2 separate regions of the Homo sapiens genome follow, and region 1 is linked to region 2. Evidence: fine-mapped expression QTL. A gene starts in region 2. The other region holds a variant in brackets. All regions are shown on one strand. Distances are between the middles of the regions.

Region 1 (4,339 bases), 32 kb after region 2:
GCTGTGGTGTGAGTATCAACCCCTGGGCTGCCCTGGGAGGCAAGGGTGAGGGCTGGATTTTAAAAGAGGGCCTGTTTTGGGGAGGGGGTGATTGAGCATTGGGGAGGCAGCTCCCAGGGCTGAAGCCTTCCCTGAGAGCAGTGAGGACACAGGTCATGAACTCACTTTTCAAGTGCTGAAGGCGGCAGAGTGGGAGCCGAGAGAGAAGGGGGTTGCTGGGGAGGAAGTTATTCAGAGGACAGGGAAGCAGGGGAAGGCAGACAGGTCCCATGAGATATGGACCGATTCCTTAAACCGTGCTAGAAAGACATGTGGAAAAGTCACTGCCAGGCTGGCAGGGAATGGGGAGATCTATTCATATTGATTGCAATGCCCCTTGGTTCCTAATCTGGGCAACTCCTGGGGCCCACAGCTAAATCCAGTGGGTGGAAGTTACAGGGAGTCTGCTTCCAGTGCTGCTCCAGGAAGGATCCCATCCACCAGAGCTGCCCCACATGGACCATGGTCAGGCAGAGGAAGATGCAAAGGATAAAGCCAGATGACCTCAAAGGTCTCATGAGATTCTAATCTGTCCGCTCCTTGTTCTACAGATTCCAAACCAAAAGAAGCAAGCAAGTCTGTGCTGATCCCAGTGAATCCTGGGTCCAGGAGTACGTGTATGACCTGGAACTGAACTGAGCTGCTCAGAGACAGGAAGTCTTCAGGGAAGGTCACCTGAGCCCGGATGCTTCTCCATGAGACACATCTCCTCCATACTCAGGACTCCTCTCCGCAGTTCCTGTCCCTTCTCTTAATTTAATCTTTTTTATGTGCCGTGTTATTGTATTAGGTGTCATTTCCATTATTTATATTAGTTTAGCCAAAGGATAAGTGTCCCCTATGGGGATGGTCCACTGTCACTGTTTCTCTGCTGTTGCAAATACATGGATAACACATTTGATTCTGTGTGTTTTCATAATAAAACTTTAAAATAAAATGCAGACAGTTTCTTTGTGATTTTAATTTGATTTGGGGGTAAAAGGAATTGCCTGGTACCATTGGGAGGGACAAACTACAGTTTCCCAAAACAGTAAGAATGAGCAATTGCTGAGTCCTTAATATGAGCTCTGGGCTGAACACTCTTAATACACGATCTCACTGCGTACTTTCAACAAGGGTTTTAACACCCTTATGAACTAGGGACTGTTGCACCGAGTTTCACAGTTAAGGAAACAGAGGCACAGAGAGGTGAAGTGACTTGCTGAAGCTTGTAGGCCTGCTTGGGGAGTGTCATGAAAGAATGCCCCAGAAAAGGAGGTTATCATTTCAACATCTTGTGGGGGGAGTTGTAAAGAGGGGAAGCAGCACAGCAAAGGCGGAAGAAGAGTGAGAAGAGTGACTTCATCATCTTATTATTATTATAACATTGGGAAAGTCATCTTGCCTTATTAGACCTCGGTGTTCACAAGTGTGAAATGGGGATAATATTAACCACTTCGAAGGGCTGTTATAAGGTGATGTATAAAGCACCCATCATAGGACCAGGCACCTGGAAGTTTCTCTCCTTCCCTCTCTGAGCTTCAGCCTTTTCACTTAAAATGGACCTAGCAATTGTCAGGATCATCATGAGGATTAGATTAGTTAGTTGACAGATCAGCACTCTAAATCCCAATCTACTGTGAAGTGTTGTCATGAGGACAGCAGGATGGAGGTTTTGTTTGGAAGTGTTGCAGGAGTAACCTAAAGCCACTTCTACTTAATTATCCTTCAATCAGAACTGCCTATTCCATGGGTCAGACACAACACAACTCTGAAGTAGAATTACATGCACAATAAAGCCTGATCCATGGGACACAGACTCGTAGTCTACTAAAGCTAAAAGGAAAGTTTAGACCATCTGGTCCAACCCTCTCATTTTATGGAAACTGAGGGCCAAGGCCTGGGAAGTAACTTGCCA[C/T]GTGCCACTCAGCGAGTGCATAGCAGAGCAGGAGCCTGGCCAATGCCAGCTCCCAGGCTCGGGCCCTTTCCTGCACACCTTCCCTAGTGACGCATCTCTGTGGTCCTCAAAAGGGAGACCGGTTGAGTAAGAACAAGGCGGAGACTATCTTGAAAATCATTTGAGTGTTCTTAGTCCTATGCAAAAGCAGAATTGGGGCCCTGCACTTCTCTGGGGTCAACAGACACAATTCCCTTCCTTGTCCTGCCCTTAGTCACCCTCATCATTCCAGAGCCCCAGTGGAAACTTCTTTCAGATTCTGCGGGGACTGAGAGAAGGAGGTTAGGGGGCAGAGCTGATCCAAAACAGGTGTAGGAAGAGGCTAGCAGCAAAGAATGTGCCTGGCCATAGTTTCTGCTTTCATTTGCCTAGATCTGAGCTGTCTAATATGTTAGCCACTGGCCAAAGTGGCTATTTACGTTTTCATTACATTTAATTAAAATGAAATAAAATTTAAAATTCAGTTCCTGAGTCACACTAGTCACATTTCAAGTGCTCAGTAGCTCCATGTGGCTAGCTCCCATGTTAGACAGCACGGATTACGGGCTTTCTGTCCATCATTGCAGAAAGTTCTGTTGGAGAGCAGTCTCCTAGAATGTTCTCAGAGCCTAAAGAAAGTGAAGGGAAGGGGAGTTGGGATGGCCTGTAAGATTAGAGTGTGGATTTTGAGAAAGATATGCAATTCTATTCTGAGGCGACGGGATGGGAGAGAGAATGGATGACTCCAGGCCAGAGACAAGGTATAGATCACTACGGTAGCTGAATAATGGCCCCCGAGGTGCACACATCCTATTCCTCAGAACCTGTGAATGTCACTTTTATAGCAAAATGGACTTTGGAGATATGATCAAGTTAAGAATCTTGAGATGAGTGATTACCTTGAATTATTTGGTCAGGCCCTAAATGCAGTTGTAAGTGTCCTTATAAGGGGGAGGAAGAGAAGAATTTGGTAATAGAGGAGAAGATAGCAATGTGACAACAGAAGCAAGATGCTATGCTGCTGGCTTGGAAGATGGAGGAAGAGGCCAGGAGCCAAGAAGTGTTAGGATGCAGCTCTAGAAGCTGCAAATGGCAAGGAAATTTTTCCTCCCCTAGAGCCTCCAAAGGGAGTGTGGCTTAGTGAAACTAATTTCAGACTTCTCACCTCCAGAACTTTAAGAGAATAAATATGTGGTTATAAGATGTTAAGTGTGTGGTAATTTTTTACAGCAGCAATAGGAACAAATACAACCACCAACTGACGCGTCACTGATAGCGGCCCCCAATAGCTCAGTGTGGCAGGAAAGGGAGCATTCTAGAGGGTGAGCCAAACCTCCCTGCAGGAGGAACCCAGGGTGAGAGGGACACACCTCAAGGAGATGAACTATAATGAGGAGAGGCATCCCAAGAGGAGATCTGCTTCAGCAACTGAGTTCTGGGGCTGAGGCTTGATCCAGGGTCCAAGACCCTTAGGAAGCATGCCTCTTCTTGAGACATCTAGGGTGCTCTGAGGGGTCCTGGATTCCTGTCCGGGAAAGAATCCATCCTCTCATCTGTCAGATGCAGCCCAGAGCAGAGCCATGACCTGTCTCTGGTTCATTGTTGAGCAGGCAAGGTCAGGGCCAGAATCTGGGTCTTCTCCCTCACGATGGAGTCCCTTTCCCAATCCTCCCTGCCCCTCAGCTAATGGAAAGGGAGGAGCTCAGCTCCACAGAGGCAAGACCACCAGGGAAGGCTGCAGGAGGCCTGGGCAGCCTCATGAAGAAATGCTTCACCAGCAATTACAAACAGCAGAATGGAATCCTCGAAGTGGGGCAATGTGGGACTTCACCTGTTGCACAATATGAGACTGTTTTTTTCCTTTCTCCTCTTTTCATACAACTTCCTTTTCTCACCCTGGGCCCAGAGAGCTGGAATCTGCTTACTTGACGTTCCATTTGAGGTTTCTCCAGGTTTCCGGGTGGGGACAGAAGCCAGAACAGATGAAGCAGGACACTCGAAAGGAACTATGGATTATGGAGCAACTTCTAGGCATCCGGCCTGTTTTCCTACTCCTTGCAGTGCCCACCTCCCCCAGCTCACTCTCCAGATGGGAGTCCATTTCCTTATGTACATGTTCCTTTAGGACATGTTCATGCAAACATGTCCTCATCCCCCTATCCCACCTCAACCTGGAACCCTCCATCATGCTCCCATTGACACAGGCATTTTCCTCCAAGGAGGCCAGGAGCCGAGCAAGCAGAGGCAGGGATCAAGGGAGCAAGATGAGCTGAGGATGGTGACATAGCCACAGCTCTTCCTCGAGGCTGAGACCAGAGACCAGGTGGCAGTCCTGTACTGCAGTCTGCATTCACCCTTTACAGACTTGAGGGTCTTGGCGCCCTC
Region 2 (4,394 bases):
TCATCCCTTCCGCCGCCCACCGGCTCCCCCATTGTATTGACTCCACATTGCCCCCTGCTGGTGAAACAAGTGCGAAGGTCAGCGTCTTTAGCTCCCTGCCTCTGATGAATACAGCTGCACCTTCACAAAGAGCACAGCTGTTCATTGTGATGGTTAATGTTACGCGTCAACTGGACTAAGCTAAGGGATACCCAGGTAGCTGATAAACATCATTTCTGAGTGTGTCTGTGTGGTGTTCCAGAAGAGATTAGCATCAGAAGACTAAAGAAGATCTGCCCTCACCAATGCAGGCAGGCATCATCCAATTCACTGAGGTCCCAAATAGAACAAAAAGGCTGAGGAAGGGTGACTTTGCTGTCTGCGTTTGAGCTGGGACATCCATCTTCTCCTGCCCTCTGACATCCACGCTTCCGATTCTTGAGCCTTCAGACTCAGACAGGGACTTGTACCATCACCTACCCTTCTTGACCCCTTCTCAGGTCTGTGAACTTGGACCAGGACTGACAACTTTGGCTGCCCTGGTTCTCAGGCCTTCAGACCAAATCACACCACTGGCTTTCCTGGTTCTCCAGCTTGCAGATGGCAGGACTTCTTGGCTTCCGTAATTGTGGGAGCCAATTCCCCTAATAAATATCTCGGTATTTATATCTATATCAACATTGGTATCCAATCTATATCTATAGAGAGAAATAGCCTACTGTTTCTGTTTTTCTGGATAACTGACTAATACATTCATTTTATCATCAAGATAAATATTTACAATGTGGGATCTGAGAAGGAGGTGGATTTGGCTGCTTCGGGACCTGCTTTCCTGTCCTGCCTAATCTCTCACCTCCTCATTTTTGCTTATATTAACATTAGCTTGGACTGGAAAATTCTGCTCTTCTAGTCCTGCAAGCTCCAGATCACAGGATTCTTAATTAGCTTGGTTTTCAGGCAGCAAGCAGAAAGTACATTTCTTTAAAAAACTACTTTTTTTCCCCTTCTCTGCTATCAGAAGAATCAGTTTCAAAGTAAGTTAATTTCTTTCTTAGTGGGCCTTACTAAGACTGATGCAAGAAATAGTCTCCAATACCCTGAATTTTCGTTTTTGATAAAACTTTGGCTCGAAGATGGACTTAGAATATATAACAGGCCATGGGGGTAACCGGCAATTTTGGTAACTAGAGGTATCCCCACTGACTTTGACCTTAGCTACTGCCTTCAGCCAGTTCCACGTTTGGGGACCCATACTTACAACATTGCAGTCTATGTTAGTTAGGGATGGTTTAAGTCACAGTGTCAGAAAAATAACTCAATCTGGCTTAAATGATAAAGGGAACTTATTAGTTCACATAACTGAAGCTTCAAGAAATAGAATTAGTTTCAGGCAAAACTTGATTCAGTGGTCCTTGTTTCGCTATGGACTATACATGTCTTTCTGAATTTCTGATCTCCCTGCATTTGAGAGCTTCATCCTAGAAAGAAGTTACTATATTCATCCTAGTTACTCTATTGGCAGAATAGCTTCCAGAAACTTCCAGAGCAAATTGGGAAGACAATGTCTGTATCCTCGTATTTTGAGCCAAGAGCCTGAGTTCCACTTTTATTGGTCTGGCTGGCTTGGATTAAGAGCCCATCTCTTAACCCAGGGGCCAGCAAACTATGGCCATTGGGCCCAATTTGACCTACTACCTGTTTTTGTATGGCCTGCGAGCTAAGATGTTTTTACATTTTAAGTCATTGAAAACATCCAAAAGAAGATTATTTTGAGAAATATGAAAATTGTATGAAATTGGAGTTTTAGTGTCCATAAAAAAGTTTTATTGGAATGCAGTTGGGTTTATTTGTTTCTGTATTGTTTACAGCCCACAGTCTAGCAAGGACTCCTTACCTGGAATGAATCATATTTTCATACGACAAAGCAGAGCTGAGTAGTTGTGAAAGACACTGTATGACCCACAAAACCTGAAGTAGTTTCCATTTGGTCCTTTACAGAGCAAGTTTGCCAACCTGTATCTTAATTCATCTTTGTGGCCAGAGAAGTGGATTTACTGATTTGTTTCAGCTGATCAATGTCTATAACAAGCAATGTTGATGGGCTGAAAACCACACAGACTACCAGAGGGGTTGCTTTTCCGAAGAATCATGTAAGGATAAAAGAGAAAGAAAGAGAGAAAGACCTTGGAACCCAACTAGTATCTACCAAATGTATGTAACTTTCTCATATTAATTCTGTCTTTATATGTGAAGATGACCAATCCCCTGCCTGTGATTACATCACATCAAGCATGTTCTTCCCAAATTGGGGGTTCAATTCAGACTCTCCTGTTATATGCCAGTTGTCTTAGGGATTTTCTCACTTTATTCAACACTATACTCAATTTTTACATTAATAATGCAGTAATAATATACCCCTTTGCCATTCTGTATTTTCCTGTATAATAATAATTATTATTGTTATTATTATTATTTTTTGAGACAGTTTTTGTTCTTGTCGCCCAGGCTGGAGTGCAATGGCATGATCGCAGCTCACTGCCACCTCTGCCTCCTGGGTTCAAGTGATTCTTGTGCCTCAGCCTCCTGAGTAGCTGGGATTACAGGCACGCACCACCACGCCCAGCTAATTTTTGTATTTTTAGTAGAGATGGGGTTTCACCATGTTGGCCAGGCTGGTCTCGAACTCCTGATCTCAGGTGATCTGCCCGCCTTGGCCTCCCAAAGTGCTGGGATTACAGGCGTGAGCCACTGTGCCTGGTCTTTCCTGAATTATTTTACCGGTTTTGTAAAAAGATTTTGATCGGGATATACCCTGTTGCCCCACAAATGATGGCTAGTTCCCAAATCTGAGACTAAGTTTTCATTATAGACTTTATATTCTAAACTAAGTCACTAACAACTGGGGCCAGACAATCCTTCCAGGGCATTGTAGACATAGGAAAAGGAAAGAAAGTGGCCAGCCTAGTGGGTTCCACCTTTGTGAAGGAGAGGTCTTTACTTCTAACTGCTCTTGAAGCCCAGTGAAGGGGTCTCCAGAGGGTAACTTGTACAAACTGGAAGTACCTGCAAACAAGGCAACTCATTTTCCAGTTGGATGTCAGCTTACATGGTGAACCTCATGATTTGCCTGAGCCAAAATGAGCAGGGGAGAAGAAAACAGAAGATAGGAACCAAAGCAGGGAAAAGGATTGCTGGAGGCTGCTCTCCCACCACATGGAATGAGCTTTCCATTGGCCGAGTGATCCTGTGGAAGGGAGCTGGGCTCGAGCCATCCTCCCAGTGACACTCCGCAAAGGTTGGGGGAATCACATGTCCCATTTTGTCTGGGAAATGACCCAGTTTATGCCAGTTGTGCCAGCATAGTTATTAATAGTAACCCCTTTGAGTCTTAAAGTGCTCATCCTACCAATAGGAGATCCACTGCTTAGCTTACAAGGATCTTAACAGCAGTAGCTGATGGGGTGGTCTCAGGGCCGCTGTCTACAAAGGCCCCTGGATGTGTGGGCAAGAGGGTGCTGAAAGCCAGTCTGCCCATCACCTGTAAGGTCTTGCACTCACACAGGGCTAGGTGTGCTCCATGGTGCTTTTTTGTAACATGCTCAATGGTGTCTTCCAGGCTAGCAAAGGCCCAGGGTATGCTGCCAGTGGTGTGAGCAGAAGAGAGAGGTGAAAGATGTTGGGCAAGGGTGGGATCTCTCACCTAAGAAACTATGCAGAGAGAGGACCCTCAGGAATGCCCATCTATCCGAGGGAAATATACATGCATTGCCCATAACTTCAATATTTTTTTAAAAGATGCAGGGATAACCTAGCAGTGGGGGCAGGGACTACATCTGTAGGCAGTTAAAAGAATTCTTTCCCCTCTCTCTTTTAAACATTTAAATTAAAAAAAATTCTTTTAGAGACAGGGTCTTGCTCTGTCACCCAGGCTGGAGTACAGTGGTGTGATCACAGCTCACTGCAGACTAGAACTTCTGGGCTCAAGCGATCCTCCTGCCTCAGCCTCCTGAGTAGCTAGGACTATAGCTGCACACTACAATGCCTGCTAATTAAATTTTTTTTTTTTTTGTAGAGACAGGATCTCACTGTGTTGCCCAGGCTGGTCGCCAACTCCTGGCCTCAAGTGTTCCTCTGGCCCTGGCCTCCCAAAGCACTGGGATTACAGGTACAAACCACCACAACCAGCAAAATTTTCTCTTTATATTACCCCACACAGACAACCCCTCTTTCCAACATGCCAGAGGAGTTAAAAAGAGAAGGAGAGAGGGTATCTCAGAACCAAACTAAAGCTTCATCACACTCCAACTACCAGAGCCTGTTTTGCTCTGGTGAAGGGCGAGGAGAAAGGAAGAAGTAGAAATGTTAGTTAAGTCAAATTTAAGATTAGGGTTCTAAACTGAAGGAATTTTAATAAC

Evidence for each region. PIP is the estimated chance that this variant, and not a neighbour inherited with it, causes the effect. A credible set is the group of variants that fine-mapping cannot tell apart.
Region 1: its variant is the best candidate, but not a certain one, in a credible set for the expression of CCL3-AS1 in whole blood (TOPMed, PIP 0.69).

Annotation. Positions count from the first base shown.
Region 1 is chr17:36,104,635-36,108,973 of GRCh38, forward strand. It overlaps CCL4 (C-C motif chemokine ligand 4), which reads left to right. Exons shown (of 3, transcript NM_002984.4): 2 at 1-8; 3 at 591-980. The coding sequence ends at 678. Among named protein-coding and RNA genes, the nearest start is that of CCL4, 3.0 kb to the left of the region's middle. The variant C/T (reference allele first, on the strand shown) is at 1,937.
Region 2 is chr17:36,072,659-36,077,052 of GRCh38, forward strand. It overlaps CCL3-AS1 (CCL3 antisense RNA 1), which reads left to right and starts at 1,955. Exons shown (of 3, transcript NR_186417.1): 1 at 1,955-2,190; 2 at 4,052-4,144.